Regions from separate parts of the Homo sapiens genome. Here region 1 is linked to region 2. Evidence: fine-mapped expression QTL. A gene starts in region 2. The other region holds a variant in brackets. All regions are shown on one strand. Distances are from middle to middle. Region 1 holds the start of ZNF281 (zinc finger protein 281). Region 2 holds the start of LINC00862 (long intergenic non-protein coding RNA 862).

Region 1 (15,580 bases), 35 kb before region 2:
TACAAAAAACTAGCCGGGCATGGTGGTGGGCGCCTGTAGTCCCAGCTACTCGGGAGGCTGAGTCAGGAGAATGGCATGAACCCAGGAGGCGGAGCTTGCAGTGAGCCAAGATCACACCACTGCACTCCAGCCTGGGCGGCAGAGCAAGACTGCGTCTCAAAAAAAAAAAAGAGTTATGAAGGTGTCTATTTAAGACAATGTGTGTGAAAGAGCATTTATTAGGAGTCAAACAGTAATCCTTGGCTCTGCCAACTTGTCAGCATTGTGGCACTTTGAGCAAGCCTCAAAATCCCCATATATAAGAATAAAGCTAATAATACTCACACTGCCTCCTTTGCAATGTTGTAGTGAAGAACAAATGGGTTTATGTAAATGAAAGTGCTTGAGAGAGCTATCCAGATATTAGCACTGTTAATACTATTCTTATTCCTGAGGAGGCAATGTGCTATGTATGGGGCACCTGTCCTGTTCTTTCTGTTGCCAAGAAAGAAAATATTACCACTTAAAAAAGATTGATTCTGTAACAATCATGAAGTGTACTGTAAAAGTACAGATCAATATAACAACAGACTTGATGTCAACCACTGAATCTATTTGCAGATAATGCTCAAGACTTCTAGAACAGTGTAAATATTTACAAAGTCGCCTCAGTTTTCAATGTTTCATAGATAAATGAGAATGAAATCATCAAGAATGTTTTTTTCTCTTTCCCTTAGTTTCTATTTTTAACTTCTGTACAGTATCAGATGTAATATCCTGGTGTTCTTTCCCAACTCCTGGCCCCTGCCCATAAAGTACACGCATGCTACAGGAATCCAGCTACACTTTGGATGCTTCCTGCCCAATTAATGTTATTTTTACTGTGACTAAAGCATTGAGAAATAGGTACCTCTATAGAAAATACTTCATATATTAATACATTACAGATGAACTGTTCTATAAATGGAATAGTAGAAACCACCTAACAGACATGAGAGATCATTCAATTCAGAAATGTGACATACTTTCAGTATTGACTCTTTAGTAGGACAGAATGTTGCTATAAGGAGTTCCAGAAATCACAGTGCCAGTTGAAGTTTGGCAGTTGGTTCCTTCCAGCTGTTTTTAAAGGTATCCTCTCTGCAGGAATTTAAAAGTGGCTCATAGTATGGCTTAAGATGTTTATGTTTAGCTGTTTCTGTTGTGATTCTTCCCTTTGAGAAAATAGGATGTTTTTCTAGTAGTAAAGGGTTTATGAAGTTCTGTGGCATTAGATCTAAATGATCATGACTGTGAATACCTGGTAAAATTAATGGAGAAAAAAGACATCATGTGTGGGGCATACAATTATGGGGCATAAAATTAGTTACAAAAAAACTAATTTTTATTGTTAATGTTATACGTTTCAACTGGTTGTGGCAGCATCAGATAGACACCCCAAGTGAAAGAGAAGCAGAGAGTCCTTGGCATGATTTCAGGTTTCAGACTCCCTCATGGTCTTTAGAAACATCCTTCTGGGGCTTCCTTACCATGCTGTTAGGTGTACATCTGTTGAGGACAGGCAAAAAGAGAAAAAAGCTTTTGAGATGGAAGCTGCCTGTATCTAAAATCCTTTTAAATTCTAAATCCTATTTTCAAAAGGAATATTTTTGTTGTGATCATTTTACATTTAAGGTTAAATGTATTAAAATTAAAAATGTATAATAAGTAACGTGGTAGTGTAGTAAATAAAAATATGAAGCATACTCTACTTTCTCAGTTTACCAAAACGTGGGGAAAAAATAAAACTTACAAGACAGATAAATTACAAGGGTGATTATACCATTATTAAAGTGCTCTTTGATTTTCTTTTTATTTATTTATTTTTTAGAGATAGGATCTCACTCTGTTGCCAGGATGGACTGGAGAGCAGTGGTGCGATCATAGCTCACTGCAGCCTCCAACTTCTGGGCTCAAGTGATCCTCTCACCTCCTGAGTAGCTGAGACTACAAGCATGCAGCACCACGCCCGGCTAACTTTTAAATTTTTGGTAGAGACAGGGTCTTGCTATGTTGCCAAGGCTTGTCTCAAACTCCCAGCCTCAAGCAGTCCTCCTGCCTCAGCCTCCCAAAGAGTTGGGATTACAGGTGTGAACAACTGCACCTGGTTAGCTCTTTGATTTTCAAAGCATCATATAGATTTCACATAAACAGCTGGGTTTCTTATACGGAAATAATAATGCATGTTGTTCAATGTTCAGGAAATTTTATTTGTTCAGGAAATTTTATTTGTTCAGGAACTCATCTATTGTACAAAGCAAAATATTCCTATCTCATAAATAGAATTAAAATTTGAATGACTTACTCTTAAATTTTTATTTATGCAGCAAAATAAGGAATAAAAAATTAACAATTATTGAGGGAAGAGGGACTCTTAATTATCTTAGAGTTTTTACATAAATCAGAAAAAAGATTTTTTTTTCTTAACTATTTAGAATTATCCAGAATTGGAGCAAACAAGTAGCCTATAAAATGAGTACTAAACTCAAGTACTGAGTGGCTTGAATTTAGTCTGCACTAAATGGATCTTGACCAAGGCTACTGGAAGGAGGAAAGTGAGTGTTGGTATTGAACTTTGGGACATCGTGTATACACAGTAAAAAAAAGTGTAGCTATAGTTGAATTTTTAAAAGTTTATTATCAAAATGGAAATTGTTTATTGTTCATAACTCTTCATTAATCATTCTTATTAAAACAAATGTATGTATTGCAACAGTTTTAGTTTCAGAAATTATAAAGGTAGTAGTATTGAATTAGATTTGTTATAATGAATATACCATACTAATGTAAAATGTTAAAAATAGAGGAAACTGGGGATGTATCGGATATATGCAAACTGTTAGTACTATCTTTCTTTGTTGTTTTTTTTTTGAGACGGAGTTTCACTCTTGTGGCCCAGACTGGTATGCGGTGGTGCAATCTCTGCTCACTGCAACCTCCGCCTCCCGGGTTCAAGTGATTCTCCTGCCTCAGCCTTCCTAGTAGCTGGGATTACAGGCATGTGCTACCACGCCCGGCAAATTTTTTATTTTTAGTAACGACGAGGTTTCACCATGTTGGCCAGGCTGGTCTTGAACTCCTGACCTCAGGTGATCTGCCCGCCTCGGCCTCCAAAAGTGCTGGGAATACTGGCAAGAGCCACCGTGCCCAGCCTGAGTACTATCTTATCAATTTTTCTGTAAAACTAAAATTGCTGTAAAAAACAAAGTCTATTTAAAAAGAAACTAAATAAAAACAAGAATCACTAGTTTTATACAATCTCTTTGTTCTGGGATTGTTTCCATTATCTGTAAAATCTAAGCATTCAGAGATAAACAAATATTAAAATATTCCTTTAATATTTTACTTTTGAAAGAATCATATTACTTAACTATTTGAACCATTTCTAGATTTAGTACAGACTCCTATTTAATATTTGGCTTGTTAGTACCTAACAAGAATACTACAATGTAGATTTTTATTTCCTCACTGAAGTGAAAATTTTTTGCTGTCTGTTTTCTCTAAGTTTAAAGCATATAGTTTTATTTTCTTTTAAAAGTTAAGATTTTAGAGTTAAAAGTGAATTTATATTTTCTAATTAATTAAGCATTTTCTAAAGCTAAAGACTAATCAACATCTTTGGAATATTTGTTACATATATAGATTACAATAAAAATGTATGCAGTTCACAACAGATGGTAATGTGAAATTTTATCTCGAGCTGGTATTTCAAGTATTATTTCAAAACCTATTCATACTTATTACCTTAAGTTTATTCTTTTAGCTGCTTTATAATTTTTTTTTTTTAATTTTAACCCTGTTGAAGATTGTAACAAATATATTCTAGTTGCTACAGTCTAAAACAGTGCTTGGAAATACTGATGCTTAGTGTTATTTCTATGATTACTTTAATAACATTTCCTGAGTTTAATTTTTTCATTACCCAGCTATCTTTCAGAACTGGTATATTGATTTTTCTAATTAATATTCTTTGTACTTGGGATGGTATTTTTATTTTGTACTTCTAAAGAATTGAATAGCACAACCATTATAAGTGATGTGCTTGCTATGTTATCATATAAATGCTCAAGGTACACCTTCTAATGTTGAAAAATAGGAAAATAAATTGACCTTGATGAAGTGTGTCTTCTTTTGTCTGTTCCCAGGAAAGTTTATTTCAGGTATTTCTACTGCTGAAATGATTAGCGTTAACAGCTTTTCCCCTCCATTTTATTTTACAGGGTCTCTTCATCTTCCTGATATATGGGGTGTACAACACAGAGGTAAGTCTGCTTGGAGTATCTCAAGGCTGACAGAGTGAATGAGAGAAATGACAGGTTTCTTATCTTGATAACTGAGGAACAAAGTTGGCTTTTCATATGAGTGTCCTACTGCCCTTCATGCTTGGACTAGCTTATATGCATCCCAGCTTACCATTAAACACTGACACCCTGAATAAAGGGACAGCCTCATTTCTCACAGGCGTTGACTAATATTTTACGACTGCCTTAAGTTTTTGAACTTTCAGTCTTTAACACTTAGCTATTGTAGAAAAAAACAAAAACAAAAACAAAAAAACAACTCAGCCTCTCCTATACTCTCACTCAACAATCAACACAGAAGATTTCTGCGACCAAATGTGTAGGGGTTTCTCCCCACACACCGAGCAAGCAATCAATTCTGCAGCAGACACCACTGGGGTGTCCTCCAATTCAATTCTGACACTACCTACCTGGAGACAGCATCAGATCCCCCAGATTAAGAGCCCAGGCCTACAAGACTGGCCGGCCGCATTTCAGATGCCAATCACAAGCCCCAGGTAGTTTTACCTGTGCTTCTGACTGACCAGCTGTAAATCGGGGTTCCCATGACCCCTTCCTTGGGCTTGATTAATTTGCTAGAGCAGCTCATAGAACCCAGGCAAACACTTACGTTTTCCGGTTTACTATTAAGGACATTACAAAGGCTATCGATGAACACCAGATGAAGAGATGGATGGGGGAAAGTCTGTGGGAAGGGGCGCGGAGCTTCCACGCCCTTTCCGGGTGCGCCATCCTCCTGGAACCTTCACGGGTTCGCTTACAGGAAGCTCTCCAAACCCCGTCCTTTTTTAGGTTTTTATGAAGGCTTCATTACACAGGCATGATTGATTAAATCATTGGCCATTGAAGATCAACTTAACCTTCAATCCCTCTCTCCTCCCCGGAGGTCGGGGGGTGGGACTGAAAGTCCCAAACTCTAATCCTGCCTTGGTCTTTCCGGTGACCAGCCCCCATCCTGAAGCTACCTAGGGGTTGCCAGCCATCATCAGTCGCTTCATTAGCATACAAAAAGACATTTATTACTTTGCAGATTCCAAGGATTTTTAGCAGTTGTATGCCACAAAACGGTTCAAAGTCCAAATATATATTTCACAATATCACAACTATACTTGACAGTATTAAAGTGTCAGTTTAAGTGGTGGAATACTTACATGTTGTTTCATGGGATTAGAAAAAAAGCAATTTCTTCTTATCTCAAAATTCTCATTAAATATTGTCTGTAAAATTTTTAGGGCAGGCTGAGAGAGGTCCATAAGTATTAGTAAATAATCCCTATGGTTTCGATTGTGAAATTTCCCAGAGAATTTATTATTTAATTATGAGAAGTTATTTAGCTAGAAACATTGTGATGTACATGTAACTTCATTAAGAAAACATACTATGTAAATAAGCTGTTGTCATAGTTCTAGTTCTTTTATTTAAAATTTCTCATTTATAAATATCCTTTGCTAGGAAAGTGTCTGGTTTAGATTTCTGCATGCTTAACATGAAATCGAGTGCCTTGTGTACATTAGACACTGAATAAATATTTGTTGTTTGATTTTGTTGATATAACTTTGATTTTAAGATTTTACTTCATAATTTTCCCTTACAAGAAAAATTTCTAAATTTGCAATGAGTTTCTCGGTATTCTGTACTGGCGAGGAAAGAGTTGATCCTAGCAGAGCTCTTAGAATGGCCTGGTGGTTAATTTTTCATAAACAATATAAAGGGCCAGGCATTCATAACGTGGCAAACAGACTGATTAGCCAGGCTAAGGTACGGGGGCATTTAAATAAGATGTAATGATAATGAAGTATGTGTGTGGGCGTGTTTTACAGGACTGCTGCACCTGGATTACGCTCGGTTTCCTCTTCCAGTAGCCTTCAGGAAGGTTGGCAGTAAGACAAGTTTTTTTCTTTTTCTTTTTTTTTTTTTTGTTGCAACGGTACCACTAATTGCGGTTTCAAAGCAGGCTCCTCCCATAAATGCAAAGGATATGCGCCCATTATTAGTGCTTCCAAATTCAAAGGGATAACATAAGCACCTGTTTTAATAAATGTTGAGCATTTGGAGTTGAATGCTTCTTGATAGAATCAAAAGTGCCCTCAATGATCCACTTCTAGGTTTGAATTTTATTTCAAGACCTGGATTGCAAAACCTAGAGTGAAGAAAGCCCTAACATTGAATCCTCAGTTTCCCTCACCTTCTCTTCCAGCCCCTTTCTCTGCATCTCCCACGCCACGCTGTAGTACAGTCCCCCGTAACTTCCCGCCCCTTGGGTTCCACCTCCTGAGCGTCTTTCCCCCAGAAACCCTCAACCACTTTCATCTCCTTCAGTGCAGCCCACCAATCACGCCTGTTCGCCTCGAAAGCCCCTTTTTAGCAGGGCTCCAAATCCCCGCCTCCCCTGCCCTTGCTCCCCCGCCTCCGCCCAACGGCCCCAGTGATTGACAGGCAGGCCGGGCGGAAGCTGCGGCGCAGGCGCCCTGGCTCCTTAGCCCTCCCCTCTGGCCGGGTCGAGGAGTTCCCAGCAGACACTGCGCCGCGGCTGCGCAGTACACGGGAGGCTTTTAATTCCATTGTGGAGAGGACGGCGTTATTTTTATTAACTGGAGGCGACGGCGGCTGCGGCGGCGGCGGGACCCGTAAGTATTGCCGGTGGGTCCAGGAGGGAGAGGGCGAGGCCTGGGGAAGAGTCGCAGGACCATGCGTGCCGGTGCCGGAGGCGACTGGGCTGGGAATTAGTGCTGGGCGCGTTGCGGTCTGGGCGGCGGCGCGGCGGGGTCCTTAGCGCTGCGGTGGTCCCGGCCCGGGGCCCGGTTCCACCTCCTTTCCTCCCTCTTCCCTCTTCCTCC[T/G]CCTTTCTTCAGCCAGGCCTCCTCCGGGGTATGAAAATCGGCAGTGGGTTCCTGAGTGGCGGCGGAGGTACCGGCAGTAGCGGTGGTAGCGGCTCCGGCGGCGGTGGTAGTGGCGGCGGCGGCGGCGGCGGCAGCAGCGGCAGGAGGGCAGAGATGGAACCCACCTTTCCCCAGGGTATGGTTATGTTCAACCACCGTCTTCCCCCGGTCACCAGCTTCACCCGGCCGGCGGGGTCGGCCGCCCCTCCCCCGCAATGCGTGTTATCCTCCTCTACCTCCGCAGCCCCGGCCGCTGAGCCCCCCCCTCCGCCAGCCCCGGACATGACTTTCAAGAAGGAGCCGGCGGCGTCAGCCGCGGCCTTCCCCTCGCAGAGGACCTCCTGGGGGTTCTTGCAGTCTTTGGTTAGCATCAAACAGGAGAAACCCGCGGATCCTGAGGAGCAGCAGTCCCACCACCACCATCACCACCACCACTATGGGGGGCTGTTCGCTGGAGCTGAAGAGAGGTCTCCAGGCCTAGGAGGCGGTGAAGGGGGGAGTCACGGCGTCATCCAGGACCTCAGTATTCTCCACCAGCATGTCCAGCAGCAACCAGCCCAGCACCACCGTGACGTATTACTCAGCAGCAGTAGCAGGACTGATGACCACCATGGCACTGAGGAGCCAAAGCAGGACACTAATGTCAAAAAGGCAAAAAGGCCAAAGCCAGAATCTCAGGGAATCAAAGCCAAGAGGAAGCCAAGTGCATCTTCCAAACCTTCTTTGGTTGGAGATGGAGAAGGTGCCATCCTCTCCCCAAGTCAGAAACCTCATATCTGTGATCACTGTAGTGCTGCTTTCCGAAGCTCCTATCACCTGCGGAGACATGTCCTCATTCATACAGGAGAAAGACCTTTCCAGTGCAGCCAGTGTAGTATGGGTTTCATTCAGAAATACCTACTACAGAGACATGAGAAAATTCATAGTAGAGAGAAGCCATTTGGATGTGATCAGTGCAGCATGAAGTTTATTCAGAAGTACCATATGGAGAGACACAAGAGGACACATAGTGGAGAAAAGCCATATAAGTGTGACACTTGCCAACAGTATTTTTCAAGGACTGATAGATTGTTGAAGCACAGGCGCACATGTGGTGAAGTCATAGTTAAAGGAGCCACTAGTGCAGAACCTGGGTCATCAAACCATACCAATATGGGTAATCTGGCTGTGTTGTCTCAGGGAAATACAAGTTCTTCAAGGAGAAAAACAAAGTCAAAAAGCATAGCTATTGAAAATAAGGAACAGAAGACCGGTAAAACAAATGAATCGCAAATTTCAAATAATATAAACATGCAGAGTTACTCAGTAGAAATGCCTACCGTGTCTTCCAGTGGAGGCATAATTGGCACTGGAATAGATGAACTGCAGAAGAGGGTGCCAAAATTGATCTTTAAGAAAGGAAGCAGAAAGAATACAGATAAAAACTACCTTAACTTTGTGTCACCATTACCAGACATAGTAGGACAGAAATCCTTGTCTGGAAAACCAAGTGGCTCACTTGGCATAGTATCAAATAATAGTGTGGAGACCATTGGTCTTCTCCAAAGTACAAGTGGCAAACAAGGTCAGATAAGTAGTAATTATGATGATGCCATGCAGTTTTCAAAGAAAAGAAGATATTTACCAACTGCCAGCAGCAACAGTGCCTTTTCTATAAACGTAGGACACATGGTCTCCCAACAGTCTGTCATTCAGTCTGCAGGTGTCAGTGTTTTGGACAATGAGGCACCATTGTCACTTATTGACTCCTCAGCTCTAAATGCTGAAATTAAATCTTGTCATGACAAGTCTGGAATTCCTGATGAGGTTTTACAAAGTATTTTGGATCAATACTCCAACAAATCAGAAAGCCAGAAAGAGGATCCTTTCAATATTGCAGAACCACGAGTGGATTTACACACCTCAGGAGAACACTCAGAATTGGTTCAAGAAGAAAATTTGAGCCCAGGCACCCAAACACCTTCAAATGATAAAGCAAGTATGTTGCAAGAATACTCCAAATACCTCCAACAGGCTTTTGAAAAATCCACTAATGCAAGTTTTACTCTTGGACACGGTTTCCAATTTGTCAGTTTGTCTTCACCTCTCCACAACCACACTTTGTTTCCAGAAAAACAAATATACACTACGTCTCCTTTGGAGTGTGGTTTCGGCCAATCTGTTACCTCAGTGTTGCCATCTTCATTGCCAAAGCCTCCTTTTGGGATGTTGTTTGGATCTCAGCCAGGTCTTTATTTGTCTGCTTTGGATGCTACACATCAGCAGTTGACACCTTCCCAGGAGCTGGATGATCTGATAGATTCTCAGAAGAACTTAGAGACTTCATCAGCCTTCCAGTCCTCATCTCAGAAATTGACTAGCCAGAAGGAACAGAAAAACTTAGAGTCTTCAACAGGCTTTCAGATTCCATCTCAGGAGTTAGCTAGCCAGATAGATCCTCAGAAAGACATAGAGCCTAGAACAACGTATCAGATTGAGAACTTTGCACAAGCGTTTGGTTCTCAGTTTAAGTCGGGCAGCAGGGTGCCAATGACCTTTATCACTAACTCTAATGGAGAAGTGGACCATAGAGTAAGGACTTCAGTGTCAGATTTCTCAGGGTATACAAATATGATGTCTGATGTAAGTGAGCCATGTAGTACAAGAGTAAAGACACCCACCAGCCAGAGTTACAGGTAAGGTCCCAAAAGTGGCCAGGCTGGAGGTCTTCTAATGTAATTTTGTTTTATTTTGAGAACACTGCCATTGGAATGTTTCTACACGATCCTATTAAGAATAATGTGATGCCCTTTCAATGCAACTTTTCATATTTAGTTTATTTTGTTAGCGTGATTTTAGCTCTGTTTGTATTATGATTTTTAATCAAAATCAATAGATTAAAAATAGTTTGACATTCAAAGTGACAATGTTTAGCAATCAAATTTACATGTATAGATCGTCAGGGAATAGCCCAAATGTTTTAAACGCAAAAAAAAAGACAAAAAAAAACCAAAAAAAAAAAACCTACAAAAAAAACTTTGTTGCTAGGATTAAGGTTATTCTAATTGCTTTACTCTCAGGAAAGTGTAATAACGCATGGGAATTCTGTACGTTATCACTGTAATGGAATATCCAATTTACAGATAGTATGATATACATTTCATCATTTAAGTAAGGGATCGAAAACATTTCAAATTGCTCTATCTGGGCTGATAGACATTTCGTCATTTAAGTAAGGGATCGAAGACATTTCAAATTGCTATCTCCATCTGGGCTGATCCAAAATTCTGAGATTGTTGGCTACCTATATTTTGTTGCAGCTTTTAAATGTACTCTGAACTTCCAAACCACATTCATTCCAGCCTGGTAGAACAAATATTCTTGGATCTTTGATCAAAGCCTGGAATGATAGCTTTAATAAAAGAAGGAAAAAAAAAAAGCACCCTCTCTTGATCTCAACTGTAACAAGGCTGTAATTCCATCAAGCGATTCTACTGACATCTAGTACAGTGTTGAAGCCCAAGTGGTTGGCTGGTTCCAGTATTAGAACTCAAGTTGAAATTATATGATTAACTGAAATTTGGGGCATGCATTATTTATTATACATGGCCTACAACGGTTCTGTCTGCGCTGTTACGTATTACCTACACTTCTGGGTTTTTTTGTTCTTGTTCTCAGCCTCTCTTTAAGAGTTCTTGGGCCTTCCTTTTCCCTCTTTCTATTTTAACAGTTTTAATTTTAGAACCATTTACATTCCAGTAGGTAATTCACTATGCGCTTTATATGCCTTAGGGCATCCAAATAAAAAACAATAGGGTAAACATCCCCAAAACCCACCTTTAAAAAAAAAAAAACCCATACAGATTTCCATATGTAATAAAACCCCGTGTTCTTGGATAGATATTAATAAGGTTGTAATTCCAACTGGTGACATAACTCCTGTGAGGGATAAGAATGTGTCTGCTTATAGTAATAACATCAGAACCTCTTTGTGAAATTGCGGCCTTTAATGTACATTTTAATGAAAGGGTGCATTAGTATTGTACAGGGGTCTTGTAAAGTCATCAAAACTTGCTATGAACTCTAATTGCCATTTGAAGCTACTGATTGGCAGTGGCTCTACTCTAAAACTGCTTTTTAGCAATTGTATTTTTTTCCTGATTATATTTTTTAATGTACTTTGATGTTTATGCTGATGAGTTTTTTATGTACTTTTGGTGATGTTTCAGTCTTATGTACTCTTCTGACGTCAGAAAAGTACCACTGGTTGTTTGCAGTCTTATTGTGTAATCAGCCTACCGCAGGCTTCCATGTATAATAAAGTAATTAATATTGTGCAAGTGTAAAACACTTCTGTTATAAAAGCAGTGTTTGGAAAATAAGAAATATTAAAAATGGTTACAAAGTATTAGTTAATTTCCTTTTCCCACTTTCCTCCCTTTAGCTTTAGCAGCTAAAGGGTCACCAACTTGTCATTGCAAGATTCTTAGAAAATGTACTTAATCTTAAATACGCTGAGTACTAAAAAGTGTTTATTTCTTATTTCAGTAAGTGCGGTAAGTTCTATTGAGTACAGAGTACAAGCTGTAATCAAAGGATGGAGAGGACCTTTACCACTGTATCTCTTAAGCTGTATGATTTTTCTCCAGTTTGTTTTATACAGGTTTTGAATTTCTTTAACTTTTATTGTGTGTACTGAATACTGCATATGTATTATTCTGATTGTTTGCTCTAGTTTACTACCAATAAAAGTCCTGTTAATCACAAGATTGAAGAAAGGAGATATTACTTAATATCCAGTAACGTTTTTCAGAATTTTCTATTAACATTTTCTAAAATATTCACATCCGTGGTATAACCTGCAGTTTAGAGGCTTGTATTTTAATTGTATTTTTTTAACTTAGGTATTTTGTGTTTCTAGGTTTATTTTAGTTGAAAATGGACTCAAGGCCGGGAGTGGTGGCTCACGCCTGTAATCCTAGCACTTCGGGAGGCCAAGGCGGGTGGATTGCCTGAGCTCAGGAGCTCGAGACCAGTCTGGGTAACACAGTGAAACCCCGTCTCTACTAAAATACAAAAAATCAGCTGGGTGGGGCGGCGTGTGCCTGTAGTCCCAGCTACTCAGGAGGCTGAGGCAGGATAATTGCTTGAACCCAGAAGGTGGGGAGGTTGCAGTGAGCCAAGATTGTGCCACTGCACTCCAGCCTGGGCGACAGAGCAAGACTCCGTTTCAAAAAAAAAAAAAAGGATTCAAATTTATATAATACTAAATTTTTGTTCTTCCATATTGCTATGCACCTAAAACATATTCAATGTTCATAAAATATTCAGTTTTATGACATTATGAAAACATTCAACATTTTATGAACATTGAATACTTTATGAACGTTGAATATGTTTTAGGTGCATAATATGGAAGAATAGAAATTTAATATTATATAAATCAATGTTTTCTTGAAATTGGGTTAGCCATCCTAATATTACTCCAGAGAAATTATTTATTGAGGCTTTATTTTAAATCAGATTCCAATATCTTCTGGTTTTAGGTGCATCCTTTTTTGCCTCAAAAATGTTGTAATATCCTGTGGCACCAGTTTTGGGAAAAAAAACTTTTTACTTAAAAAGTTGTAATAAAGTGACAGTATGATTTAGATTACAACAGTCTTGAGCATTTTAGTTAGGATGAAGGTATTATTAAATCAGCAATGTTTTAAAATGTTGAGAGTATAAGTATTAGAAGGAAAGAGCTAAACCTATAAATAATGGAGATGCAGAAACTGAAAATTAGTAAATATGTAATATATTAGTAAACTTATAAGTATGAAGGGAAAAAGTAGATCATAAGACATTTGTGTTTTGAAATTTAGTGGCTACAGTGTTGAGGAATTGGGAATAAATATATTAAAGGGTAGAATAGGTCTTTGAGGCTTTGTTTTCTTTTTAGTATATGATAGTATTACAGGAAATCATAAAGATATTAAGTATAAGCATGGATTTCTCTGTAGAGATTATCTGTACTGGCGAGTCTGTGATTAGGAAATGTCAGTTTTTGTTTGTTTTGCCCAAGTGTATTTCCTAGATTTGGTCTTTTTCTTGAACAAGAGTGCTAAGCAGAATCTCTGATTCTATATTGAAATCCAATTTTTGATTTCTTTGCACAGGTGACTTATTCTCTATTCTAGATTAGCCCTAACAGATTGATTTTTTTTTTTAACCCATCCACCTGCCTTTATTTCTTCTGTGGAATGTCTGTCTCTGAATATGATCATTTTAAAATTAAGGTTTTTTTTTACTTTTAAGAAGTTAAGGTATGAAGTAGGAAACAATGCTTTTGGATTTCTGTTGTGCTACTGGAAATTCAGAATAAGGACTACCATAATTTAGCAATTGCTGGTCAGTATTTTTGAGGTAATTTAAAAATGGGAACAGTGGAAAAACATCTATAATTTTTAGCATGTTTTTAAAAAGTTGCAAACTGATACAAATATTTCTACTTTAGTTTTCCGTATTATGCTCATCAGATGAGAGAGGCAAAAGTTTGTATTCATTCCTGTCATCTGGCATTTTGTAATTACTTGCCATTAGTAGCATTTAAGCCTGAACTGGGTGACAGTTTGAGCAATATGGCTTCATGAGGTCACATGGAATTTTTACCTTCCAAATTCATAGGCTCTTGTTAAGCAGAAGAACTTCCCTCACCAAAAATAGTTTCTGAACTTCTACTTTTAGGGTAAAACATACCTGAAGACTATCATTTTCTGAGTTTTATGGTCTTTGTGTTTTCTATGATACATACTGATAGGATTTCATTTTTAAAATGTGATGCAAGACTCCTTTGTTAGTGCTATGATAGGATCCATGCATCATGTTGCGTGAGGTTATGATGGTAATGTTCCATGAATATTTTGTTATGGGATCCCTCCTGGTATTTAAGAAGAGGGATCTGTGGTGGTTTACCAATCTGCTTGTACCCTCCATGAAATGATAAACAGTTACTGATAGTGAGGGAAAATATTGTATTCTCGTTATTTTTTTATATCCTTGGTAACATTTAAAATGAACATTAGGATGAACACAGCATCTTAGAATTCTGTTATCTTATGCTTGACTGTATTTGAGTGTGACTAATTTAAATAGACTATATTTAAATTCTTTATGAATCTTTGGCTTACTTATACAAGTCCAGCGTAACATTTTTTTTGGGTCACAGACTCTGGGCACCCGATATAAATTGATGGCCCCCCGCCCCCTGTACGTTAGCAGAGATATATCAACAAATGAAAATGTGCAAGCCAGTCTACATGCTCACAAGACCTCCTCCAACTTTCAAATAAATTCTTAGTTATGGACCCTAGGTTAAGAATTTAGAAGACATCCTAAATATTGAAATTTTATTGTATAGATAAGTAGGAAGTTAAAACCTAAGAAAATCATCAAATATTAGGGGTGCTTCTGAATTGATTTATCTGCAGTTTAACTACTTAGCATTTATGGAAGGCAGTTTACAAAAAGCCATAGAGGTTTATGATAAGCTGGTCAAGTAATTAGTTGAATAGATTTTATAATTCTTTGCACTTCTCATCTGATAATAACTACCGTATAGGTAGTAGACTTGACAGTAGTTCAGTATTTTCTGTTAACAGAGTTGTGTTTATAACAATTACAGTCAACTACTGTGGTTCTTCAGTTGCACAGAGTAGCTTTTGGCAAAAGTGAAAAAACCTACAACCAACCTACATCTTTTTACCTAGGAGGAATAATATTGAGTTCTTAATAACAGACTATACTTCATTATAGCCTGTGTGTGTGACTAGCTAGGTTGAAATGTACTGTGCATGATAAGCCTTGTAAAGCAAGTTATATGTTGAAATTAGTATCTTTGGAAGTGTAGATAGATAGCTGGAGAAAAATGTAATGATTTGGAGCTTGTACTCCAGAGGGGAAAATGTATTTCCCGTGTTTATAGAGAATAGAAGAATAATGGGCAGGGGTTGAATGTAAAGGGAATTAAGGGATATCTTAGAATGGAGAAGAAAAGGAATAGATTTTGAAGGAAAATAGCATACACATTCCGTACTCAGTCACATTTGGAAAATAGGGAATATAAAATTTACTCCAATATTAACTGTTAAAAGGGTAAAGAGGATCTTTAGTTGGAAAACTGTTCTGATTTTGTTGTTCTTTCAGTTCAGACTTATTTCAGTACTTTGGTTTGTTATGAACTTTAGAACTATTGTGGAGCAATTAATAAATAACTCTTAACAGACAACTGTGGTGAATTTCTGTTTACATGTCCAGTCTAGGAAAAAGATGGCTAATCTTTGTGTTTATGTATTAAATCTTTTCTTTGGTAACTCATAAAATCACACAGTTTCCATCGGTTGTTAAGAATTTTAAATAACTTTT
Region 2 (15,580 bases):
TGGGCGGATCACGAGGTCAGGAGTTCGAGACCAGCCTGACCAACATGGTGAAACCCTGTCTCTACTTAAAAAATACAAAAATTAGCCGGACGTAGTGGTGCATACCTGTATTCTCAGCTATTTGGGAGCCTGAGGCAGGAGAATCGCTTGAACCCGGGAGGCGGAGGTTGCAGTGAGTCGAGCGAGCCACTGCATTCCAGGCTGGGCGACAGAGTGAGACTCTGTCTCAAAAAAAAAAAAAAAAAAAAAAAAAAAAATCTTGGCCATATTTTAATGTAGGATCCATACATAAATTTTAACGCCCAATTTTAAATTATAGTCAGTAGCAAACATGTTATTTTTGGGAAGTCTCTTTTCTGACTTGTTAAAGCAAGTATGCATGGGCCTATAATTCTACAACACAAATTGCGTTTTTGTTTTGATGAGCTCTGTTCCTTTATTCATACATTCATTCATTCAACAAATATTTATTCAGAACTTACTAGGTCCTGGGGATACTACAGTGAACAATAAACAGCAATCTATGCTCTCATGTGATAGCCTCTGGTTATACCGCTTGATTCCTTTTCTTTTTCTTTCTGACTCATATACTGCTACTTTCTGACTTATATACTACTTTCTTACTTTCTGACTTATATACTGCTAATATCACTGCTTAACACCAATTTGCGAAGATAACATTTATGTGACGTAAATAGATCTATTTTATGTTCTGCTGTTCTTAACACTTAAACATTATTATTGCGAGTGATTTTTGTATTCTTTTGGATGTGGGTAATTTAACTTTTATTAAGGTAATTTTAGTATGTTAGATGCTCAACTCATTTGGCCATTAGAGTGCTCTTCTTTATTTAGGAGCGTGTAACTACTTGTCTCTGACTGATTGTGCAGTCATGACATAGCTGGAGTCAGGATCCAACTTTAAACATTGTGAGATAAATCATTTCCACAGTCTTGCTTAAGTGGCCATTTTAGTGTAGAGAAGCACATTTTCCGTTGAAAGCCAATGTGAATGTCTCCTTGACCCCGGGTCTCAACAATTTTTGAGCAACATAGGTATGATGGTTTAGAAAAAGCTTGATAGATTAAAAAAAAAGATTCTGTAAAATTAAAAATTTTTCCTTTGAAGAATTATTGATAAAAGCATGCATTTGAAACAATATAATTCATATATATCAGTAATAAAATGGGGTCTATTTGAGTTTACTAAGCATTAGCTTAGCAATAGCTACATTTCTCTAGACAGATTTCTGAGTTGCTATGAATATTTGATCTCAAGACAATGAAACCTGTAGAAATTAGTAGTTCCTTTTTCCTTTTCAATGCTCTGTATACCAAACAAAAACTGTCACCTTTCATGCATAAACATTAATGACCAGTATCTGTGAGCGCAAAGCCTGTATATTCAAGGTTAAAACTCATTCCCTGCACTATTTGGGGAGATGATTAACTCTTCTTGGTAGCAGACCAGAAGCAAGTGGGGCAGCCCCCACCTCTTCATCTTTCTGTGGAGATCTGTAGGGTTGTCTACAAAACAGCTGCTCCCCACATGTACTGGGTGTGAAAAAATCCATTTTTGAGAAACAAACATCAAAACAAAGGCCTCATAGCTGTGTATTTTTCTACCTTTGGGTCCAGGATCCAAAGTCCATATTGAAATGGCTTACTTGCCTTCCAGAGCACAAGGGTGGCTGCAGGAAGTAGACCCAGAGGTTTTCACAAACCAGGTCTTCCCTGGAAATAGTAGTAGAGGCTCGGGACCCAGATCCCCATGGAACCACCTGGCTGGTTTCTTTAGGGGAGGGCCTGAGCCAGGAGTTTTTCAGGGGCAGAGCCATGTGCCTTTCTGATCCGACTATATTCTGGGCTTAGGTGAATCTATGTTGACTTTGGAGTGGTCAGAGGGGTTGAAGCAAAACTGGCATGGATATTCTGCTGGTTGTCAAATGTTGGGCAAGTGTCCTGCTCATAATTTTTAAAGGACAAATATTTGAAATGAGCTAGCTATTTTAGATAATTTAAAAATTATTTATGTGCTGGTTTATTGTATAGAAAGGAATATGAAATATTGTACATAACTTAAAAAAAGATTAAAACAAGCCTGGCACAATGGCTGGCACCTGTAGTCCTAGCTACTGAGGAGGCTGAGGTGAGAGAATTGCTTGAGCCCAGGTGTTCGAGACTGCAATGAACTATAATTGCACCACTGCACTCCAGCCAGGGCAACAGAGTGAGACCCTTTCTCTCTCTACATATAAAACAGTAGATCAACATTACAAAATGTTAAAAAGAGAAAAAACACCCATAATACTGCTATTCCATTTTTCCTCTGTGCAAATATATTTGAACATGGTTATATTCATAATGCACATATATCATCTGTATTCTGCTTTTCAATTTAATATCATCCTCTATTTTCTGTATATTGTGACAGTCTTCATAATTTATTTTTAATGATAATATAGTATTTCATTAGAAACATGTACTATAGCTAACATTTTTCTGATTATTGGGCATTTAGGTTGATTCATATTTTGTAGTGAACATCTTTTCTTTTGGATCATTTCTTAGGATCAGTTTCCAGCAATAAGATTACTGTGTCAAAGGAAGTAGACATTTTTATGACTGATACATGCTTTGCAAAAGGTTTGGCCTTTTTCTTTGCACAACTTTAAAGGTGAATCATCAGCCATGAGCCAGTGCTTACATTTTTGGACAGTTAATTATTATTCCCATATTAGGCAGAGAGAGAAAAGCTCTGTGCACATCTGATTTTCTTCTTATTGCTTTCATTATATAGAGCTGACGTGTTGAGAAAAATGTCCTGGCTGTGAGACATTCCAGACAACAGAGCCATCACTTTGGAAAAGTTTGGACCAATCCCAATTTTGCAATCAGCTCCCAGAGTTTTTCATATTTCTTTTGGCAAAGATATCTGTCGCTGTGGTCAAATGCAGCTGAATGGTTAAAGTCACAGCGTGAGCTGATCAAGGTGCCTATTTTAGTATTAGGTTGGCAGTCTGTGGCCAGGTGTCTGGGTATTTTGAGAGAAGTAATTTTGTAAAGTAATTTGCAATTCTTAACTGTGAACAGTGCCAGAAGAGTTATATGCAGGTTTTCTGTGGAGATTCTCTCTCTCTTCCAGACCAATTGGAGGATAATCATTGGTTTCCGAAGAAAACACACTGGGCCGGGTGCAGTGGCTCATGCCTGTAATCCCAGCACTTTTGGGAGGCTGAGGCAGGCGGATCACCTGAGGTCGGGAGTTCAAGACCAGCCTGGGTAACATGGTGAAACCCTGTCTCTACTAAAATTACAAAAATTAGCCAGGTGTTGTGGCATCCACCTGTAATCCCAGCCACTCAGGAGGCTAAGGCAGGAGAATCGCTTGAACCCAGGAGGCGGAGCTTGCAGTGAGCTGAGACATGCCATTGCACTCCAGCCTGGGTGACAGAGCAAGACTCCATCTCAAAAAAAAAAAAAAAAAAAAAAAAAAAAAAAAAAAAAAAAAAAGAAAACACTGATTGCAGGGAAATTAGGACACCTTGGTCCTTGCTGAATGTGTCACAGTGTCTGTGCTTTGCAGCAAATTGCTTGACTTGAGTTTTTTCCTTCTAAGAAGCAAAGATATTGGAAACAGGAGTGCCAAAATCCCTAAAATTTTTTAGGTTCTTTGTCCGTTGGATGATTCTAATTGCATGCCCATTTTTGTAGCCAAGGATGTAATTTCCCTATTCATTGGGGCTTCTGTCAGGCAACAATGGAAAAGAATAGGATGTGAAGCACAAACCTATCTTTATAGTTTGTCATTTCTACCAGAAGATATCATGGCATATATAATTAAAACCAATGGCAAAAAATTATTTTGACTACCTGTGGCTTGAATGTACTTACTCTATCCCTGCTCCTCATGAATATGTTAAACATAGAAAAAAAAATAGCATTCACTCTTGCCCAGCAGGTTAAAAGGAAGTCAATCTATTCTGTGGAACTGGTCTTGAATTTACCGACCATTACTTTATTTGCTGACTGTAAAAATTCTAGCTTAAAAAATAGCACTCTCAGCAACATCATTTTCAAACATGAAGGCCAACAGTATTTTATTTAGCATAGCATTTTGAAAATCTAATGGCAATTTGGTAAGAAAAACTTAGGCCAGTTAGGGGAGGAGTAAAAATGAAAGTGGAAATAACATTCATTTTCTTTTTGTATTTTGTATTTTTATTTTTTTGAGGCAGTCTCATTCTGTTGCCCAAGCTGGAGTGCAGTGGCGCGATCTTGGCTCATGCAACCTCTGACTCCTGGGTTCAAATGATTCTCCTGCCTCAGCCTCCTGAGTAGCTGGGATTACAGGCGTATGCCACCATGCCCAGCTAAATTTTGTGTTTTTAGTAGAGATGGGGTTTCACCATATTGGCCAGGCTGGACTCAAACTCCTGACCTGAAGTGATCCACCTGCCTCAGCTTCCCAAAGTGCTGGGATTACCGGCTTGAGGCACTGCACCTGGCCATTTTCTATAAACTCTCTGAAATTAATTTTCATTTAGTCTGTTATAAAAGTAGTTATTCTCATTTTTCCCTATGAAGGCATAGAATCAGTAAAGAGATTTATAATGAAGCTATGTGGTCACTTCAATGCATATCTTTGTAGCTGCCTGTAGAAGAGTTTTCTATTGACTGTGGAAACCCCTTCATAAGAAACAGGGTGAGGGTCACTCTAGCTGAGCTTGAGTAGTTTACTTAACCTGTCTGTTTCCAAACTGGTAAAATGGATTGTGGTGAAGATTAGAGCTGATACAGTTTAAGCACCCAGCTGCCCTCTTGCAAGTGAGGATACTATACTTAGAGAGGAACCCAGTCCCAACCTCTCCCCAGGGAATAGCAGCAGGAGAGTGCTGGGTTGTAGACCAGTGTTGAGACTTGTAAATAGTCTTTGGCACCATAGGGCCATGTGTATTCACTCATCAAATTCAGCCGTGTGTGTGTGTGTGTGTGTGTGTGTGTGTGTGTGTGTGTGCGTGTTTGTGACCCTACTCTGAGCCAGGTACTGTTTCAGGTATTAGGGATACTGCTGTGAATAAAACAGAGATGCTGCCCCTGCTGATGGAGACAAGTAATAAGTAAAGAAACATAGATGGAGATCTGTGCTATAAAGAAAGAGCAGAGAGCAGGCATGTTGGCTCATGCCTATAATCCTAGCACTTTGGGAGCCCAAAGTGAGAGGATCACTTGAGCCTAGGAGTTCAAGACCAGCCTGGGCAACATGGTGAGACTACTTCTCTACTTAAAAACAACAACAACAAACAGAGTATGGAGATAGAGAGTGATCAAGTGGGAGGGAATTGTTTTGGATAGGACTTTCAGATCAAGTAAGGTCAGATCAGCCTCTCATCAGAAGACACTTGTAGCAGAGTGCTTACTAAGGAAGTGAAGGAGCTCTGAGTTTGTCATATGAATATTGGGAAAAAGAATGTTCCAGGCAGTGAAAACAGCATGAGCAAAGGCCCTGAGGCAATAGCATACTTGATGTGTTCCACTAAGGAGGGCAATGTTGTGCCTGGAGTGGAGTCAACAAGGAAGAGATTAAGCTAGAGGCTGAGGTCAGAGAGATGGGTGAGGTGGCCAGATCATATGAGGCCTTGTAAATCAAGATAAGGACTTTCTTTGGCTTTTGAGTAAAATGGGAAACTATAGAGATTTTTAAGCAGAGGAGTGACATCATCTGACTTCAAAGGAGTTTTTATAGTGTGTTGTGGGCTTTTATAGGCTCAGGCAAGAGGTGGATAGGGTGGATGGGGAATAGATCTTGTAGAGCTGAGTGTTCCAATATGGTGGCCTCTGGCCACAAGTGGCTACTTAAATGTAAATTAATTAAAATTTTAAAAATTAAAAATTCATTTTATCAATTGCACTAGCCACATTTCAAATGCACAGTAGCCACATGTAGCTAGTGGCTACTGTATTGGACAGTGAGATGTAGATCATTTCCATTGCCACAGAAAGTTCTACTGGACAGTGCTGGTAGGGTATTAAAGGTCTTTGTAGGGACTTCAGCTTTTACTCTGAGTAAATAGAAAGCCATTGGAGGGTTTTAAGCAGAGGAGGAACATGCTCTGACTTATGATTTCGAAAGATCACTGTTGAGAATAGACTGTAAGGGGGCAATGGTGAAAGTTGATAGACCATTAATAGTCTAGATGAGAGATGACCATGTCTTCGATGAGGGGGTAGGAGTGATGATGATGATAAATTATTGGATTTTGGATATATTTTGAAGGCAGAACCAATAGGCTTTTCTGATGAAAATGATGTGATATGAGAAAAAAATGACAAAAAGGTTGTGGGTGATGATGAGAGAAGAGAATACAAGGCCAAAGAGAAGGGATTTCCCTTGTTGTGGAGGAGTCTCACTCACCTTGAAGCAGGAGGGAAAGCAGGGATCTGGGTGGAAAAAGATCTAGAGAATCCTCATCTAAGCAGAAGATGAAGGAGTAAAGAGAGAAAGATGGGTGTATTGGAAGCTTGCGGGTGATGGAGAAAGTTTCAAATAATTCTTGGAAAATAAGTTGAAAAAAGAAACGTAACACAGTTGTTAGAGCAGGGCATGATTGCTTGTGCCTATAGTCCCAGCTACTTGGGATCCTGAGGCAGGAGGATCTCTTGAGCCCAGGAGATGGAGGCTGCGTTGAGCTGTGTTTATGCCACTGCACTCCAGCCTAAGCGACAGAGCAAGACTCCATTTCTTAAAAATAAAACAAAAATGTAGTTGTTAGTATTGAGGGCCCATAAGAAGTTGGTGATGATGAACCTATCTACGCTTTTGATCACCTCCAGCAGAGTTTGACTGTTGCGTGCAAGCAAAGAGAAAGGAGATGGCGGGGTTCAATGAGGGCTGTCGTTTTCCTAGATAGGTTTGTAGAAAAAACAGAGAGGAAGGGAGTTTAAGGGATTGGCAAAAAGGATATAGTAATAACAGACCATGGAATAAAAATTGAGTAAGAAGGAAAGTGAAAACAGCTGAAGGCTAATGAATTGGGAGAAAGCAGATGGATCAATAGACTGGAGGCCCCAATATTTCTAAGAGCAGTTGGAGTTGTTGTCATGCAAGTTGGAAGGAAAGATGCTTATCCAAAAGCTGAATGCCTGAATCAGTAATCTTGCGGCAGAGCTATTGTAGGTGATGACAAGGTCAGTCCTTTGAAGTCTATGCATATATATCTTCATTATAGGCTGACTTGCCAAGTCTTAGAATTTTTACAATATAACCTCACTGTGGATCTCATCTAAGCAGGTTTGGTAACCAAAAGCTCAAGAGCGTGAGATTGAGACCCCAGAGAGCTCATAGCCTGTCACAAACCAGCTGTGTAACCACGGACCTTGAGGAAATGAACCTTATGGTCCCTTCCGTCTCTAATCTGTGACTCCATAGCCCCATTATAATATAGCCTTTTCCCAAACACTGACCTTCAACATAGACCCTGGGGGATTTTTCTATTAAAAATTTGCAACTCTGCACATTTTTATCTGCTGATGCCTCTTGGAATATTAAATGCTTAGAAAGCTGTCGTCGGGATCACATTCTGGAATCTTGACCATGTAGTCATCTGAGTGGGTGTGACAGGAAGTATACACCAGCAGCATTTGTGTCTGAGTGTCCTTCAGACACTGGGATGGCTGCACCTTTACCCGTCCTCTCCAACTCTCTCCACCTAGAAAGTATTCTTTTCTCTTAATTTTGTTAGAGTTATATAGGAATGCTCCTTCAGCAGAAATGACAGAGGCTGTTGCTCTCAGAATCAAATGCAATAATGTGACCTGTAAATTCCTGTGAATATTTGGATATTTTAGCGATATTTGTTTATTCAGAAGAGATTCTGGATGCAGAACTCTCCTCCTCTCTGTTCTCTAACCCTGCTTTCCACCATCATTCTTCTCTCTCTAGGGCACAGAGAGAATTAAGAACAACCTAAGGTAAATTTTTAACAAGATGGTCTAGCTTGAGCTCTGTAGGCTTGACTGATGAAATAAGTAGTAGTTTTTTGCTAAAATAACCACATTGTTTGCAAAAGTTTTCTCCTTTGAGTTTTCTAGGGTCATTACAATGATCTAACTGCCTTACCTGCTTTTGAACTGGTTGAGCCTCTTGTGGGACCGAAAACAAAAGAAGGGTGTTGAAATGCAAATAGATAACTCTGGGTCCCAGTCCCTGACTGCAAAAGGAAGCCAAAACTGACAACAACGTCTCCTTCTCTACGGAGGTTTGTAGAAAGGCTGTACAAAAATCTCACAAGATGTATTTCTTCTCGTGGACTGGAGTCCCAAGGTAGGTAAGAAAAACAAAAACAAGATAAAAACAAACAAAGGATTCCGTACTTGGAATTTGCTCAGTACCAGTTGAATAGCTAATTGTTTCTTGTGTTCTTCCCCTCCCCCCTTTTTTTCTGCCTGAATAGATAATCCTTACAAAACATCTATTCATTCTACAAGTGAAAATTTCAAGAATATTCTATACTGACCTTGGCAAGAGTAATGGACCGAGATTGAGTGATGAATTTGTGTGTGTTGTGGCTGATGTGCATTTTGGTGCTTTGTATGCAAGTTTAAGAATATCTTAGCAATAGGAAAGGAAGATTTATGGCAGTTTAATTAATGAATATAATGAAGGCTAAAACTTGTAGATAAATTTATAAGGTACACAATTATTTTTATAGCTTATTTTTAGCACAAAGGTGATTGTATTTTGTTGCTTTAAGAAAGGACCTCTTGATAATACTGGCGTGTTTTATATTTCAATGTGACCAGTTTAACTGATATGCAAACAATTATTTTTTAAGGGAAATAAAATGAGGCAGTAGTACAACTTAGCGAAGAGGACACTGTGGCAGATTCTAACGACTAGATTAAATTTGAGCTCTTATTTGGCTTTTACTACCAACTGACTGCATAACTTTGGGTCAGTTATTTGGCTCTTTTTTTTTTTTAATTTACAAAATTAGAATGAGAACTACAGATAGTGAAAATATTTGGAAAAGCTTTTTGAAGTCCCACGTGAAAGGCATCAGAAAAAAGAGTTGGGTGATTTTTTTTAATGGGAAATAATCTGATATTGTCAGTAAACCTAAATTTTTTGTATATTAATTTATTTTTTAAGCTGTTATTTAATTTCAGGTGCTTAAGAGCTCTTCAATTTGTTAATGGAAAGAAACACCATTTACACCGGATGGCTACAAAGCAACCTTATTCTGGTAAAATAATCTCTTAAATCCTTATATACACAGTCACTAACTGTTGGCTTTATAAGGTCAGTAGTAGCAAAACAGCCCTGTGGCAGTTAGAAGCTCAGCATGTCCAAGATAGCACTAACGGGGAACAAACACAAAAAACAGCAAACAGTTTAAACAGTACCATTTGATTTGAATTTAACCCAATCTTAAACAGAGGACTCTAAAAAAACAATTACCAGCAAAGTTACATTAATTAGGGAGATCATTAGGTTGTATCAATGCAGTTTAGCTATGCCTTTTAAAAAGTGAAGATGGACTAGAAGCGGTGGCTCATACCTGTAATTTCAGCACTTTGGGAGGCCAAGGTGGGAGGATCCCTTGAACTCAGGACTTTGAGACCAACTTGGGCAACAAAGTGAGACCATCATGTCTACAAAATTTTAAAAATTAGCTGGGTGTGGTGGGGTATGCCTGTGGTCCCAACTATTTGGAAGGCTGAAGCAGGAGGATCGCTTGAGCCCAGGAGGTCAAGGCTGCAGTAAGCCATGATTGTGCTACTGCACTCCAACCTGGGCAACTGAGTGAGACCCTGTCTCAAAAAAAAGAAAAAGATTGAACTTGCAGGCCAACATTTATTTCTGACTATTGACTACTTTTGAAAGAGAAAGCTTTGGACACTAACATTCTAGTCTCAGAGGCCTCAAAGAAGCACAGCCCTGTAAAGAAGAAAATTCTGCTGGGATTAGCAAGAGCCTCAAGGTTTTGGGAACTTGGAATGCCAGGCTCAGTGTTCCGAGTTCCAATGTTGACTCTGCCTGTGAGTCACCCTGAACTAGTCACTCAGTCTCTTGTGTTTCCCCCTTTAGAGAAGAGCTAAGACTATTGACTTTTCAGGAGTTGCAAAACATGTTACAAAAGGATAGGAAAGTACTATGCAAACATGTAAATATCATGAAATATTGGGGGGGTACATTTTAATAAAGATAAGCTGCATTCTTCTGATAATTGGAAGTTGATAATCTTTATGTAAAGACAGGGAGATTGATTTCAAAATAGAGGTTAATGCTTGAAATTTTAATTCGAACAGTGTAAATTTGGATCATTGTTTGCTCTGTTAGTCGATGTTGCTTACTGAAAGGAAACTCTTAACAAGTTGTCTTACTAGAATGGCTTATTTTCAGAGTCAGACCCCCAGGCTTTCTAGAAATGTGTATTAAAATTTAGTAACCTCACTTTCAATTGTTGAGTATAGGACACTGTGGTTGGGTTTCTATATATGTTGTAAACAAGCCAAATACACAAAGTGAACTCTCTATGGACCTTAAAAAAGTCTTAAAAATTTTTTTTTGAGGATATTGAATGAGGCACCTATTTTATTCCTTACTTTTGCAGGATAGCTTGTCAGTGCCAGCTTGGGTTTTTGAATTCTGACTTTTTGCTGGCCATGATTTGGCTGTCTCATTAATAAGACAAACCTTTCTAAAGTGGAGCTCATTGTTTTTTAGTTCTTTTAATGGTGTGGCTAGCCTCTCATTGTTAAAGAAAAGAAAGAATATAATTTTTATTCTTCGTTCTTTCTGGCAACTTTATACCCTCTACTAACCCACCCAGTCCTGAAATCCTGTTAGTTTTTCCATCTGTGACTAGCATCTCTCTTCTGATTCCCAGTAAACGCTACTATATTCCCATCATTCAAAATTAACAACTGTTATTATTTTTGTCATATCTTCTTCAATTTTTTTAAAGAAATAAAACAAAACATTGATGATAAAATCAAGTTGCCTTTGAATATTAATTCCAAGTCCATTTCCTCCTTCTGTCCTCACTTCCCAGAGCCCATGTTCAGTTTGTATACTTTTTAATATTTTATATATATTTGTATGTACCCATAGTTAATATGTAGTATTGTTTTATGGATTTAAATATACATAAATGTTTTCTTTTTTAGAGAGAGAGGATCTCATTCTGTCACCCAGGCTGGAGTGCATGATCATAGCTCACTGCAGCCTCGACCTCCTGGGCTCAAGTGATCCTCCTGCTCCAGCCTCTCAAGTAGCTAGGACTACAGGTTTGTGCCACTATGCTTGGCTAATTTTTTTTTTTTTTTTGTAGAGATGGGATCTTACAATGTTGCCTGGTCTCAAACTCCTGGCCTCAAGAGATCCTCCCGCCTCTGCTTCCCAAAATGCTAGGATTACAAGTATGAACCACCATGCCCAGCCAACTGTTATATGATTTGTTTACTTTCTCTGAGCATTGTTTTTAAGGTCTAGCCATGTTTTTGTACAGACACACACACACGTGCACACACACACACACCCATCTATATATATATATTCATTATTTTTAATTGCTGTCTAGCATTTCTTTTCTTTCTTTTTCTTTTTTTTTTTTTTGAGAAAGACTCTCGCTCTGTCACCCAGACTGGAGTGCAGTGGCACGATCTCAGCTCACTGCAACCTCTGCCTCCCGGGTTCAAGCAATTCTTCTGCCTCAGCCTCCCAAGTAGCTGGGACTACAGGCGCCTGCCACCAAGCCCGGCTAATTTTTGTATTTTTAGTAGAGACGGGGTTTCAACATATTGGCCAGTCTGGTCTCAAACTCCCGACCTCAGGTGATCTGCCCGCCTTGGCCTCCCAAAGTGCTGGGATTATAGGCATGAGCCACCACACCCGGCTATTTGCTGTCTAGCATTTCATGGCATAAATAATACCACATTTTATCAGTCCATTTATTAGTGAATATATGATTGTTTATATTTTTTTCACTAATATATAGGCAATAGTTTCTTAGTCTTGATTCCTAGATGCAGGATTGCTACATTTTGAATATGCACAATTTAACTTTTAAGAGATATTACCAAATTGATTTTCAACTGTTGGAAAACTGTTTCCCCAGATACTTTCCAACACTTGTCAGACTTCTTAATCTTTGCCAATTTTAGGGGTAACAAATGGTTTTCCCTGGGCTTTCTAGCTTTATTTCAGTTCATCCTATTCATAGTTGCTGGCCTAATCCTTTCTAAGGACAGCACTGCTCAGGGCCTTGCCTGGTCAAACACTCTCAGAAGCTCTGCACTATCTACTCAGTCCAAACTGCCCCAAGTCCTCTGCAAGCAACCTGTCCCACCTCATCTATCCATGCCCAGCTGGACCAGAACGTGCAACTTACCACTTTCTCAAACTCAGCTTTTACTTTTCTGCCTCTGCAACTTGATCATGCTCTTCTGCATTCCTGTATTGATTCAACAAATATTTATTGAGCTCTTTACTTCCTGCCAGGTGCTGGGAATATAAGGGTGAAAAAGAAAGACCATATCTAGGCATTTATGGGACTTAACAATTTTTAGCAGAGGATGGGGATGGGCAGAAAATAATCCAGTAAAAAAATTGAGCACGATAATTTTCCATAGTACTTTATAAGTACTATAAAGAAAGTAAAATAGAATGTTAATGAGTTTGTGTGGAGGAGTGACGGGGGTGGATGTGGGGCATGTCCAGGTGGGAACTTTAGAGGGGCAGGTGCTCAGCGAAGGCTTTACAGAGAAGGTTATATTCCCCTTGAGACCAGCAGTGTGAAGCTCATTCACAGACCAGAAGTATTTCTGATCCTGAGCAAGTGCAGATCCCTGCATGTAGGGGTGGCCTCAGAGGATCCTGAGAGGAGCAGAGCTGCCCTTGTGGCTGGCAGTTGGGGCTAGGAGAGTGGTGGATGCTGTAGGAGACAAAGGCAGGCAAAGCCATGCCTCTCAGGGCCTTGTGGATGCTCTCTACCAAAGCCACTGCAGGAAACCGTAGTTTGCCCTTTAAAGCCCTGTAAAGCCGTGATCAAATCCTCTCTTCATAATCATTCCTGATCCAGCTGGCTGGGCGCGCTCTTTCTGGACCACCATTGCACAGTAGTGGTGCCTCTTAAGGCATTTAACATAGCACTTTGGGATCATGATGTCTGTCCTTCCCATGAGCTATTAGAATTTGTTTTCATGTTGCTGTTTTGTTTCTACCTCACAAGGGACAATACTTTATTGTCTGGAAAGAGGAAAGTAGAGGAGGAAAAGGTAGAACACAGAAGAAGCCTGTCATTTTTTATTGAGTCTGGAATGAACTGAGTTTCAGTGAAATAAGCTTTCCTGTTGTATATTTGAGCTGATTTTCACAATGGCAAATATGACAAATTTAATTTTCCTTAAAAATTGATAAGACCAGTTGGAGTTCTAAAAGTGATTTTTTCTACCCCTTGAAGATCTTTTCTCAGAATAGCAGTCTGTAGGCTGTCACCTAAAGTGTCCTGTTTTCAGTGCTGCACCTGCTCTGAGCTTCATCTTTTTACGAAGACGTCATGGTGTGCTATCTGTACTGGGAAACTTTCCCCAGCATCAGCCATCTCCTGAAGATAACATTGTCTGCTAGAGATTGTCATGTATGTGGATTGAATCTCTTTATCTTCATGGTAAGTTTGGAGTTGTGTATTAGACCTACCTTACTGGTGAAAAGAATGAAGGTTCGTAGAGGTCATTACTTGTCTGTCCGCAGGTTACGAAATTAGAGAATAGCGAAGCTGACACTTGAATCTGGGGCTACTGACCAATTCTCTATGAAGCTTCCACACTTTAAGTAGTAACATAGCAAAGACCAAGCACTTAAAATTATTTCTAGATGAAGCCTTTGTGCTCTGAACCACTGTGATCACTGTTGATCGCATTTTCCTTCTTGAACTCATTTTCTATTAATAGGAGCATTTATCACAGACAGTGAGAGGCAGTTTGTGCAGCGGGGAAGAGCACGGGCTGTCTGAAGCTAGACTGTCTGAGTCAGGGTCTTCTGTGCCAGCTTGCTAGCTGTGTGGGGGAAGTTACTTAACATTTCTGTGGTTAAGTTTCCTTATTTTTAGTATGAGGATAATAACAGCACCTACCTCATTGGGTTGTTGTAAGGATTAAATAGGATAATGTACTTAAAAGGCTTAGAACAGAGCCTTGTACTTAATAAGTCCTCAGTTAATGCTCTCCTAGTCTCAGGTCTCAGCTCAAATGTCCTCTCCTAGGGAGGCCTTACCTGGCCCCTGTAGCTAGCCTGGGCCTCCCCCAGGCATTCAACATCTTCACCCTCTGCCTGCACCCTGCCTACTTCCCTCATGGTGTTTTCCCTCTTTTGGGGTACCAGGTTTATTACAGGGTTGTCTCCTCTGTGACAATGTGAGCTTTCCATGGGTTGGCTTGTATGTTCCAGTTTCCAGCTCCAGGACAGTGCCTGGCATGTAGTTTGCTCTCAATGTACATTTGTTTAACGGCTCTCTGTTTCTGAAAATCCTGAATCAGAGCTTTCATTTTGAACAAAATCGTTGCTACTCTGGTTTCTTCTCAATATGCCATATGTATTAGTGTTCCCTGAAACTTCATTCCCACAGCTTCAGACATGATCCCAAATGGCTCAAGAATTTGTACTTCTAGCCCTGACTCCTCTTTCTTTACTTTTTTTTTTGAGACAGAGTCTCACTCTGTCGCCTGGGCTGGAGTACAGTGGCGCGATCTTGGCTCACTGCAACCTCTGCCTCCCAGGTTCAGGCAATTCTCCTGCCGCAGCCTCCCAAGTAGCTGGGATTACAGGCGCCCGCCACTATGCCCAGCTAATTTTTTGTATTTTTAGTAGTGATGGGGTTTCACCATGTTGGCCAGGCTGGTCTTGAACTCCTGACCTCATGATTCGACCACCTCGGCCTCCCAAAGTTCTGGGATTACAGGTGTGAGCCACCAAGCCCGGCCCTGACTCCTCTTTCAATCTGTATTTCCAACTAACTGTTCATAAAACAAATTCTGGTAGGTGTCCTTAGCACAACATGTTCAAAACCAAATGCACTACTTTTTTTTTTTTTTTTCTAAACCAGGTCCTCTTTCTGTGCCCCCAGCCCGGTTGACAATGTGTGCCTTCACTCACCCAATTAGAAACCTTGGAGGTATCCTGTACTCTTCTGTCACTTACCCTCAGCCTAAAGCCAATCAGTCACCAAAGTATTGTCTGTCATTATCATCATCATCATCATCATCACTGTCACCACTGATGGAGTGAGAACCTTGTGCAGTTGAGCATGAACCCCAATTTCATTTGCAAAATGACCCAGACAGCAGATTTCATCTCATATGAAATAAGCAAGGTGAGGTTTTGATGACGTTACAGACATGGCTAAGAAGAGGTTGAGAACCAGCATTCAGCCCACCTGACTCCAAAGCTCATGCCCCGAACCTCAGAAACTTCTCCAGTGAGTTCCTTTTTTTTAATGGCAGGATCACACCATTAGTTTGGACTGGATCCAACCTGGATTGTTGCAACAGCCTTTGATCTGATCTGTCAAGCCCTGTG

The links. PIP is the estimated chance that this variant, and not a neighbour inherited with it, causes the effect.
Region 1: its variant is fine-mapped to the expression of LINC00862 in whole blood (TOPMed, PIP above 0.99).

The regions. Positions count from the first base shown.
Region 1 is chr1:200,401,312-200,416,891 of GRCh38, reverse strand. ZNF281 (zinc finger protein 281) reads left to right here and starts at 6,856. Exons shown (of 2, transcript NM_001281293.2): 1 at 6,856-6,946; 2 at 7,169-11,941. The coding sequence starts at 7,187. The coding sequence ends at 9,874. RefSeq lists enhancers at 4,996-5,602, 6,278-6,327, 5,874-6,451, 6,452-7,029, 7,030-7,607 and 2 more and a silencer at 6,668-6,847. The variant T/G (reference allele first, on the strand shown) is at 7,157.
Region 2 is chr1:200,366,758-200,382,337 of GRCh38, reverse strand. It overlaps LINC00862 (long intergenic non-protein coding RNA 862), which reads left to right and starts at 8,546. Exons shown (of 5, transcript NR_040064.1): 1 at 8,546-8,691; 2 at 9,169-9,245; 3 at 11,173-11,292; 4 at 13,467-13,673. RefSeq lists enhancers at 1,517-1,566, 7,066-8,265, 9,662-10,192.